3 linked regions of the Homo sapiens genome follow. The protein of the gene in region 2 purifies or fractionates together with the protein of the main gene of each other region. This does not show direct contact. Each region holds a gene or a part of one and is shown on either strand. Other genes may lie near its edges. The genes, in order: TRAP1, RPE and NRBP1.

Region 1 (3,652 bases), on a different chromosome or scaffold from region 2:
ACTTTGGGGGCTGCGGCGGGAGGATCCTGTGAGTTTAGGAGTTTGAGACCAGCCTGGGCAACCTAGAGAGACCCCCATCTCTACCAAAAAACCCTTTTTTTTTTTTTTCCAATTAGCTGGGTGTGCCTGTGGTCCCAGCTACCCAAGAGGCTGAAGTGGGAGGCTCCCTTAAGCCTTGAGAAGTCGAGGCTGCAGTGAGCTGTGATCACGCCACTGCACTACAGTCTGGGTGACAGAGTGACAGTGTCTCAAAAAAAAAAATATATATATATATATATATATACACACACACATATAAAAGAAATTAATTTTGAGATAGCTAAATTAAATGCCATATTAAGAGCAGGAGGCTATTCAGCAATGCTGCTGAGAAGAAGACAGAAGGACGTGGGTCCTTCTAATGTAACTATGTGTGTCGGGTTAGTGATATGCACCTCGAAGGAGAAATTAAGACAGCACATTGCCATGTTAGTTCACACTTGCCAGTATTTCAGCATTTGTCAGGCAATGGAATGTTCAAGCGAATTTTCCACGAGGCTGACTTTAAAACATTTCATTTTAACCATTATGATGAGAAGTCTTTCTAGAACACTCCATCATTTGATGGCCCATGACTGAACCTCTCTTGGATGTTTTCAGGGTCATTATTACGGGTGTTAATGTTTGGTCTTCTGTTTTAATATGTAGGCTCCCGTAGGGCCATTGAAATGTGAAGAATCCTTCGTCTATGAAGTGTCCCCACATCAAAACTGCATTGTGAGTGTTTATATTTTTGGCCTCTCTTACTGTGGCCTTAACTTGCAGGTCTGTCTGGAGCCCTGTTCTCTCCTTTCCTAGTTTGCAGATGTGGCTGGGAAACTTGTTAGCATCAAATTGTTAGAATGAGATGGATTTCATATGGGGCCAGTAGTCTTCCATGAGCAAAGCTCAGGGTGAGGGCTTCAGGCCCATATTTTGACTATTCCGAGGTGCCCTTTCGCTTTTTGTTCTTTTTCTTTATGTTCAAGGAGTTATGTTTCCTGATGAATGAAGTATCAGTATATCATAGTAGAGAACGATTAGACCAGGTTCTGGAACACAGGAAACCTCAAGAAACAGTGAGTGTTGAGAATGCCAGAGCTAAGAACTCAGACATTTGTGAGGGAATACAGGTCTTTCTGTTCAGAATGTTCATGTACTTAAGAATCTTCTCGCCAGGCGCGGTGGCTCACGCCTGTAATCCCAGCACTTTGGCAGGCTGAGGCGGGTGGATCACCTGAGGTTAGGAGTTTGAGACCAGCCTGACCAACATGGAGAAACCCTGTCTCTACGAAAAATACAAAACTAGCCGGGCGTGGTGGCGCATGCCTGTAATCCCAGCTACTTAGGAGGCTGAGGCAGGAGAATCGCTTGAATCTGGGAGGTGGAGGTTGTGGTGTGCCGAGATGGCGCCACTGCACTCCAGCCTGGCAACAAGAGCGAAAACTCCGTCTCACACACACACACAAAAAAAAGGGAAACAAAGGTAAACTGGGAAGGAACCGTGTGTAATCTTCCGTACCTTGCATTTTCCACTTATATTCTGGGGTTTGTTTCCTGTCGCCACAGAGCTCTGGTATTCCATAGCGAGGATGTTTTGTAATTTATGTAACCCTCTCATGGCGGACATTTAGGTTGTTGCTGAGTTTCCCCAAGATAACAGACGGCATTGCCAACAGTTTCTCACACCTTCACCAGTGCTAGAATGACAGTATTTAAAACATCTGTCAATCTGGTAGTGAAAATGCTATCTCGTTTTAAAGTGCATTTCCTTAGTTATGAGTGTGGTAAAACATCTTTTACTAGGACGTAAAGCCATTGATGTTTCTTGTTTTTGTGAATGGCCATTTTTCTCTTGAACCAATGGCCTTTTTCTTTTTTTTTTTTTTTTTTTTGAGATGGAGTTTTGCACTTGGTGCCCAGGCTGGAGTGCAGTGGCGTGATCTTGGCTCACCGTAACCTCTGCGCTAGCCCTTTTAAATAACTTTTAAAAATTGAGACAGTGTCGGGCCAGGCACGGTGGCTCACGCCTGTAATCCCAGCACTGTGGGAGGCCGAGGCGGGCGGATCATGAGGTCAGGAGATCGAGACCATCCTGGCTAACACGGTGAAACCCCATCTCTACTAAAAATACAAAAAATTATCTGGGCATGGTGGCGGGCGCCTGTAGTCCCAGCTACTTGGGAAGCTGAGGCAGGAGAATGCCGTGAACCCAGGAAGCGGAGCTTGCAGTGAGCCGCGATCGCACCACTGCACTCCAGCCTCGGCAACAGAGCAAAACTCCATCTCAAAAAAAAAAAAAAAATTGAGACAGAGTCTGACTCTGTTGCCCAGGCTGGAGTGCAGTGGCGCCATCTCACCTTACTGTAACCTCCGCCTCCCGAGGTTAAGCAGTCCTCTCGCCTCAGCCTCACAAGTAGCCGGGATTACAGGCACGCGCCACCATGCCCGGCTCATTTATTTTTATTTATTTATTTATTTATTTTGAGATGGAGTCTCGCTCCGTCGCCCAGGCTGGAGTGCAGTGGTACAATCTTGGCTCACTGCAACCTCCGTCTCCCAGGTTGAAGCATTTCTCCTGCCTCAGCCTCCCTAGTAGCTGGGACTACAGGCACCCGTCACCACGCCCGGCTAATTTTTGTATTTTTAGTAGAGATGGAATTTCACCATGTTGATCAGGCTGGTCTTGAACTCCTGACCTCATGATCCATCCGCCTCAGCCTCCCAAAGTGTTGGCATTACAGGTGTGAGCCACTGCTCCTGGCTTTCTGGCTAATTTTTGTTTTTTTTTGTATTTTTAGTAGAGACAGGGTTTTGCCATGTTGGCCAGGCTAGTCTCAAACTCTTGACCTCGGGATCTGCCCGCCCCCACCTCCCAAAGTGCTGTGATTACAGGCGTGAGCCACGGCACTAAATTTTATTTTAGAGGCAGGGTCTTGCTTTGTCATCCGGGCTGGAGTGCAGTTGTGCGATCCTGGCTCGCTGCAGGCCTGACCTCCTGGACTCAAGTGATACTCCTGCCTCATCCTCCCAAGTGGCTGTGACCTCTTCCTCCCAAGGAGCATGTGCCACCATGCCTGGCTAATTAAAAAACATTTTTTTTAGAGATGGGGTCCCACTATATTGCCCCGGCTTGTCTTGAACTCCTGGTCTCAAGTGATCCTCCTACTTCTGCCTGCCAAAGTACTGGGATTACACGCAGGAGCCGTCGTGCCTGGCCCCCAGTTTTTTTCTTAATGTGTTTGTCTTTTTTTTTTTTTTTTTTGAGTTAGAGTCTCGCTCTGTCTGTTGCCCAGGCTGGAGTGCAGTGGCACGATCTTGGCTCACTGCAGCCTTCGCTTCCCGAGTGCAAGCAAGTCTCCTGCCTCAGCCTCTGGAGTAGCTGGGATTACAGATGCCCGCTGCGACTCCCAGCTAATTTTTGTATTTTTGGTAGAGACGGGGTTTCACCATGTTGGCCAGGCTGGTCTCGAACTCCTGACCTCAGGCGATCCACCCACCTCAGCCTCCCAAAGTGCTGGGATTACAGGCATGAGCCACCTCACCCGGGTGTTTGTCTTTTGACTTAAATTTTTATGTGGTCCTTATATTTATGGCCTTTTGGGTTATATATTTTGTTTAGAAACATTTCCTC
Region 2 (3,652 bases):
TGAAGATGAAATGAAGTAAATTACGATGCTTGGCATGTAGTAAACCCTCGGTGAAAGGTGGTCGTTACTAATAAACACATCATGTTTCTTTATTAGTCATCTTTAAGAAAGTTTAAAGAAACTGTCATTTAGTGCCTTGTGATAGAAGTGATTAGAAGTAGCCACAGGCCTCCTGAGATAGACTAGGATTCAGGAGATCAATATTAGAGTCCAGAACTTACTAACTAGTGTGTGACTTGGGCAAGTCATAAAGCCTGAGGGTTTCTGATTTTATCATCTCTCCATTTCTACTTGTCATGGGTCGTGAATTACGGAGTCAAATCATTATGAAAATATATGTGACGTGATTTGTTGAAATGTCAAGGAGACATTGCCTAGTAAAACCAAAATGACCCATTATTTTTAGTATTATTTAATACTGATGATTAAGTATTAAATTGAAAAACATTGCAGACAATCCCCTCAACCTGTGTCAGAATTCATATTGAGAGAGATACAGAAACTGAATTGAAAACATTTTCAGAGTAGATTTTGTTTGTCTTGTAGGCATTTTGTTCCCAACATCACCTTTGGTCACCCTGTGGTAGAAAGCCTTCGAAAGCAGCTAGGCCAGGACCCTTTCTTTGGTAAGTGGGTGTTACGCCATCTGAAGCTGGATGTGTTGCTCAAGTAAAGGAAAACTGGATGGTTGATTTTAACTTCCAAGTTCATCTGGCACCCTTTCCCCAACTTTCCTATCCTGGGTCTTCATTGGCCTGACTCCAGTAACAAGCCAAACTTCTTCCTGCCTCTGGGCCTTGGCTAATCTGCATGGAAAGGTAGTAGCTTGGCTGGCTGCCTCATCTTTGGGCCTCAAGTCATTTGTCATTTCCTCAGAGAGGCCTTTTTGAGCGTCCTCTCCCAAATTAACCTTTATCCAATTATCTTATCACCTGTTGATTTTCCTCTGAGAACTTCCTTTGATCTGCGATTACTTTTATTAGACTATAAACTCTCTGAGGGCGGGGATTGAATCCAGTTTGTTTACTGTGGTTTTCCTAAAGCTAAGCATAGACATGATCAGGGCTCAGTGTAATTGTTAAGTGAATTTATGAATCAGTTGATTTATGGTCCAGAAGCCATTTATTTTGTGCAAATTGGAGCTTTCTACAAGTGGTGCCTAAATATTCACTCCAATGTCCTAGTACAATGTAAATTAAGATTTTTAAGATTACTTAGTGGCCTACAAGTGATTTATGTTAAGTTAGCAATGTCTCACCTGCCAGATCTCTTAAACATGAGAAATTTTACACATTTTTATAAATAGTGTTATTTATTTTTTTCTTTTTTTTAAAATAGAGACTGAGTTTCGCCATGTTTCCCGGGCTAGTCTCAAACTCCTGGGCTCAAGCAATCCACCTGCCTTGGCCTCCCAAAGTGCTAGGATTACAGGCTTGAGCCACCAGCCTAGCCATAAATAGTTTTTTTAACGTAGCTTACAATTTAGTAGAACTTAGATTCTTTTTAATCAGCATATTGCTGACCAGTTTTATGAAGGACTCTGTGCTGTTCACTATGGTAGTCATAAGCCACATGTAGCTATTAAAATTAAATAAACTTAAGTTCATGACCAGAATGGCCAACATGGTGAAACCCTGTCTCTACTAAAAATTCAAAAATTAATCAGGCGTGGTGGCAAACACCTATAATCCCAGCTACTCAGGAGGCTGAGGCATGAGAATCACTTGAACCTGGGAGGTGGAGATTGTAGTGAGCTGAGGTCATTCCACTGCACTCCAGCCTGAGTGACAGTGTGACACTCCATGTCAAAAAAAAAAAATTTTTTTTAAATTAAATAACATAAACTTAAAAATTCGGTTTCTTATTCACGTTAATCACATTGCAAGTCTTCAGTAGTCACATATTGTACAGTGCAGCTATGGGACATTTCCAATATCACAGAAAATTCTGTTGAATATAGTCTCCAGCCTCTGTGTAGGATCTATCTACTTTGAGTTCACCAAAGAAAATGTACATTATTACCTCATTTATGTGGCATGAGGAAACAATGTTCCACCAATATATTCACCATTTTGAAATTTCCATATAATGGGATATAGTCCTCTGATTATCTAAACTTTCTTTTAAGCCATGATTAGCTTATATAGCAGATACCGTGACTTTTCCTATGAATTACGGTTGTTCTCATGACCATGAGAGGTAGATGAAATAAATAGCATTGTTTTCTCCCACTGTACAACCAATGGCCAGAATCCTCGCTTCTGGCTTGCTTGTGTGAATTTTTTTAATGCTTGCTTTTTTTCCCCTTTTCGCTCCCTTTTATTTGGGCTCCCATTGTCACACCATACTATTGTCTATATCCCTTCCTGTCAGTGCCTTTCCTTTTAGCAATCCTGTGTTGCTGCCACCACACACAATCTGCTTTTTCTTCTTGTTTTTAATTTGTTGATAAACTTGCTAATTAATCTTTCTAGAATTTGGTCTAAAAGATAAATGAACTCCATTCACTTTAATGTTTGGGTTTTGTGACCCTTGTTTTTTGGTTTTTCGCTTTTTGTTGTTGTTGTTGTTGTTGCTTTAAGAGACAGACTCCGTCTATTACCCAGGCAAGAGTACAGTGGTACAGTCATAGCTCACTGCATCCTTGAACTCCTGGGCTCAAGCAATCCTCCCGCCACAGCTATAGCTAAGACTACAGGTGTGTGCCACCACAACCGGCTATTTTTTTTTTTTTTTTTTTTTTTTACTTTTTGTAGAGATGGGATCTCCCTGTATTGCCCAGGCTAATCTTGAATGCTTGGGCTCAAGCCATCCTCCTGCCTTGGCTTCCCAAAGTGTTGTGATAGTAGGTGTAAGTCACTGAGCCCGACTACCTTTGTTTTTTATATTGAGAAACATTTGTTTAATTCTTGGATTTTGGTTGTTGGATAATTGATACATGAATGTATTCTAGGACCTAGATTACATGTTGTGTTGTATATGTAACGCTAACATTCTTAACTGTTCAGTTTTCATATTGAGTAGAAATAAATGTCTAAGAAATACAGTGATGGGAAAAGTCTGTTCCTGTTATTGTCTAAATCAGTGATCCTCAAGTATGTTGTATAAGGACCCACACAAATCCTTAAGACCCTTTCGGGTCATCCATGAGAGTATATCAAAACTATTTTCATAATCCTAAGAAATTATTTGCCATTATTTCTACTGATGGTACAAAAACATTGATGAGTTAGTTTGCTGGTGCCTTAACCAACTCAAGGCAGGGACTGTATCAGGAGTTATTCTTCATCATCATGCATTTGCAATAAATATCCTTGATGAAGCAGTAGAAATTAATAAATCTTGGTCCCTGAATACATGCCTTTTTAATATTTTGTGTGGCAAAGTAGGAAGTGCATATAAAGTGCTTGTGCTGCATTGCTGCATACTGGAACATAATGGTTTTCTCAAGGAAAACCACTTGCACCATAGAGGTGTGATCTGAACTAGCTGCTTTCCTCCAGAACACTATGTTTGTTTGAAAGAACAACTGACAGATCAACTATGGTTTTTCAGACCTGGCTATTTTAATGACATTTAAAAAATATTAACTAAATGAGGCTGTCTCTTCAAGGAAAGATACCTTGTCAGTTTTTGTTCCCAAAATTAGAAT
Region 3 (3,652 bases), about 180 Mb from region 2:
CCCAAATTCCCGAGGCTCCCCTGCCCAGAACCTCTCCCTCCCCTCACCAGAGCCAATCTTGATGAGTCCGTTGTGCTGGATGAAGATGGTGTCACAGGTCAGGTTCCCATGGATGATGGGGGGGTCACAGGAGTGCAGGTAGCTGTGGGGGCACTGGGCTGTTAGAGGGGCCACTGGGAAATTAAGGGCAGGGGGAACCCAAGGGTTAAGAGGAGCAAGGGCCAGGTCTCCTGCTGGTCACCATAAAGATAATCCCCACACTCTGAATCTCCATTATGCCTGATGATTTAAATAGCTGGATAAGCACTAGGAGAAAGAGGTAGGAGATAAGTGTCGTGGTTAGGGCATTAGGACGCACCCTTTAAAAGACCCGTAGGGGCCCTAATCTTGACAGTATATGATTCAAAGAAAGTGGGGAGAGGCAGAATAGAACAGAAGAGTAGTGCCCTGAAATCTGTTTGGAGTAACTACATCAGGAAATATGGGTAAGAAACTAACCAGGTACTACTTACCTTAGGGCAGAGAGGATTTGTGTGCACCAACGCTTCCATGCCTGGAACAAAGTTGGATCCAAGGGTCAGCAGTAATTCCCTCTCTTAACTCTCTCCCACTAGCTCCTTCCGTCCCTTCCTGATCAGCTTCATTATTAACAGAGTCCTTTTTAAAACCACCCCCAAAAACCAGCCTCAAACTTTGTCTGCTCTCCTTCTATACCTTTTCATTCATCGTCTTGTGGTTCTTTTTGGTCTTCTTCAGAAATTGCTTCAGACTCCCAGATGACATGTATTCTGTGATAAAAATGACCTGGGGAGGCAAAGCACTTACTAAAAGGCCTTATAGTAGAAATGATCCCTTCCCTTGTTAACATATTTTAAATTTGAAGGTTTGTTAAAATTTCTCTCCTTTTGTTCTTAGCTTTACTTACTTAGACTAAATAGGGCAATGAAAACAAGCAATGAAAGTTATGGGAAGAAAGAAGCAAAAGTTCACTCATTTTCTGCCCAATCTATAGCCACACAAAAGGCATAGGTGACAACTGAAGCCCTACTCTTATCGCCATTGCAGCTGATTCCAGTTCTGTTTCAAAACTACCTTGTTTTAATCTCTGAGTGTAAAAGGAACAATAATAAATGTAGCTAGTCTCTTTGCAATAAGTTCAGGAAATATGGGGAAAAAATTCTTACCCTGGCCTTGTTCTCTTTAATGTCAGCCCAATATTTGTGAAACTTAACAATGTTAAGATGCTCCAATTGAATCAGATTATCAAACACAGCACGAACCTTTTCCTGAAAGCAAGGGAGACAGTGGAATAACAGAGTCACAAATCACTGTAATAATCCTGAGAAGCCATTCCCTATCCCTCCCCAGAAACGATCTAACCCCAACATACTCTCCTCACGGGCAGCTTCCCAACACCAATTCCTCTCTAACATCAGTGTTCCAACATTCCCCAGGCTTCACCTTTTCAGCATCACCTACCTCCTGCAGCTTGTAGTTCTTGCGTTCAGAGAACTGTACCTCATTCCACACAACCTCTACACCTTCCTCTGTATCCATGGCCAGGTATGCACTGTCAATACCTGGTACATTCCGTTGATTCACCTGAGAAGAAATTCATATGAAAGAGAATTAAACTTATCTCACAAATCCTCCATTTTAACACTCCATATGATCATCTCCTCCTAGCCCCCAACCTATTGAAGTTTGGTTGGCCTCTTTTAAGACTTTGCTCTTCCAGTTCTCACCTTTCCAGAATTCACTCACCCAAGAGTAACTGTACCATAACCTTACCTCTTCTCGCCTCTTCTGCCAGCGCCCACAGGGCGACTCTTCCAAAATCTCAGACTCATCTTCACTTTCTTCTTCTTCCTCTGGGGAAGCAGCTGAGGTTGTGGAGGTCACAGGAGGTGACACTGATGTCAGGCCAGGAGCTGAAGATGAGGATTCTACCTTTGGGTCTGAGCCACTGCTAAGTACTGTCTGGGACTCCCCCTCCGACATGCTGGAAGGAACACTCAGGCCTGCACTGGTTGGGGCAAATACAGAGGGAAAAGGCAGAGAAAGTCAGGATACATCTGTAAAGATTTAGTAATCCAGGCTGGACGTGGTGGCTCATGCCTGTAATCCCAGCACTTTGGGAGGCTGAGGTGGGCAGATCACCTGAGGTCAGGAGTTCAAGACCAGCCTGATCAACATGGTGAAACCCCATCTCTACTAAAAATACAAAATTAGCTGGGTGTGGTGACGCGTGCCTGTAGTCCTAGCTACTCAGGAGACTAAGGCAGGAGAATTTTTTTGAACCAGGGAGGTGGAGGTTGCAGTGAGCTGAGATCACGCCACTGCACTCCAGCCTGGGTGACAGAGCAAGACCCCATCTCAAAAAAAAATTTAGTAATCCAGCTGAGCACAGTGGCTCACCTCTGTAATCCCAGCACTTTGAGAAGCCGAGGCAAGAGGTTCATTTGAGGCCAGGTGTTTGAGACCAGCCTGGGCAACAAAGTGAGACCCCATCTTTACAAAAAAATTTAAAAATTAGCAGGGCAAGGTGGTACACAGCTATAGTCCCAGCTACCCGAGAGGCTGATGGGAGAATCACTTGATTGCCCAGGAGTTTGAGGCTGCAGTGAGCTATGATCATGCCATTGGCTAGGCAACAGAGGGAGACCCTGTCTCAACAAAAAACAAACAAACAAAAAAAAAGATTTAATAATCCTAATACTTATCTGCAAATTCAAAAGAAAATAAAACAGGCCAGGCATTTGAGACCAGCCTGGACAACATAAAAAGACCCCAGTCTCTACACAAAACTTTTAAAAATTAAAAATAGAAAACACACACCACCTTTGTTTCCTTTAAATCCAAAATCAGAATCAGTCCTAAATACTGAAACATTAACTATTCTCCTAACTCTAGTCTAGAAAAGGGGAGCTATCTTAGTTGAAGATGACCCTCCCAGGAATGACAAACACAAGATTTATGGCAGTCTAATCCCACTTAGAGTAAGGTTCAAATCACCAGCAAAATCAGGTGCTCCATTCCTTCTTGGCAAATACTCATCCAATAGGCTTCCCTTTGAATCCCCAAGTACACCCTATTTTTACTGTGCTCAAGAATTAAGCTATGTGTGGACGGGCACAGTGGCTCACGCCTTTAATCCCAACACTTTGGGAGGCCGAGGTAGGTGGATTACCTGAGGTCAGGAGTTCGAGACCAGCCTGACCAACATGGCAAAACCCTGTCTCTACTAAAAATAAAAAAATTAGCTGGGTGTGGTGGCACGCACCTGTAGTCCCAGCTACTCAGGAGGCTGAGGCAGGAGAATCACTTGAACCCGGGAGGCAGAGGTTGCAGTGAGCTGAGATCGTGCCACTGCACTCCAGCTTGGGCAACAGAGTGAGACTCTGTCTCAAAAAATAAAAAAATATAAACTATGTGGGCGCTATTCAGAACAGATGACTCCAGACTCCAAAATGTTTCAGTGAGACAGCCTTAAGGCTAGACCTGTAGCACCCTCAGCCAACTTATCCAGCTGAAACCCTTGGCTAATTTATCCAGCTAGAACTAACCTTGGCATTCACTATCCATCCCTTCTCTACACAGAACAAGCCCACTAGTCCATGGTGAGGCTACCCTTGGGGCACATGACTGGCAG

The links.
Region 1: the proteins of RPE (region 2) and TRAP1 fractionate together in Homo sapiens (co-fractionation; one large-scale study listed by BioGRID). This does not show direct contact.
Region 3: the proteins of RPE (region 2) and NRBP1 fractionate together in Homo sapiens (co-fractionation; one large-scale study listed by BioGRID). This does not show direct contact.

The regions. Positions count from the first base shown.
Region 1 is NC_000016.10:3,707,489-3,711,140, reverse strand, and holds part of TRAP1 (heat shock protein 75 kDa, mitochondrial isoform 1 precursor), read left to right. Parts: intron 1-738; exon of another isoform or gene 739-756; intron 757-3,652.
Region 2 is NC_000002.12:210,009,111-210,012,762, forward strand, and holds part of RPE (ribulose-phosphate 3-epimerase), read left to right. Parts: intron 1-546; coding exon 547-626; intron 627-3,652. UniProt on the Homo sapiens protein: Catalyzes the reversible epimerization of D-ribulose 5-phosphate to D-xylulose 5-phosphate.
Region 3 is NC_000002.12:27,431,623-27,435,274, reverse strand, and holds part of NRBP1 (nuclear receptor-binding protein), read right to left. Parts: intron 2,027-3,652; exon of another isoform or gene 2,022-2,026; 5' UTR 2,002-2,021; coding exon 1,792-2,001; intron 1,603-1,791; coding exon 1,480-1,602; intron 1,287-1,479; coding exon 1,185-1,286; intron 805-1,184; coding exon 715-804; intron 554-714; coding exon 513-553; intron 143-512; coding exon 48-142; intron 1-47. UniProt on the Homo sapiens protein: Required for embryonic development. Plays a role in intestinal epithelial cell fate and proliferation, thereby involved in the architectural development of the intestine potentially via the regulation of Wnt-responsive genes.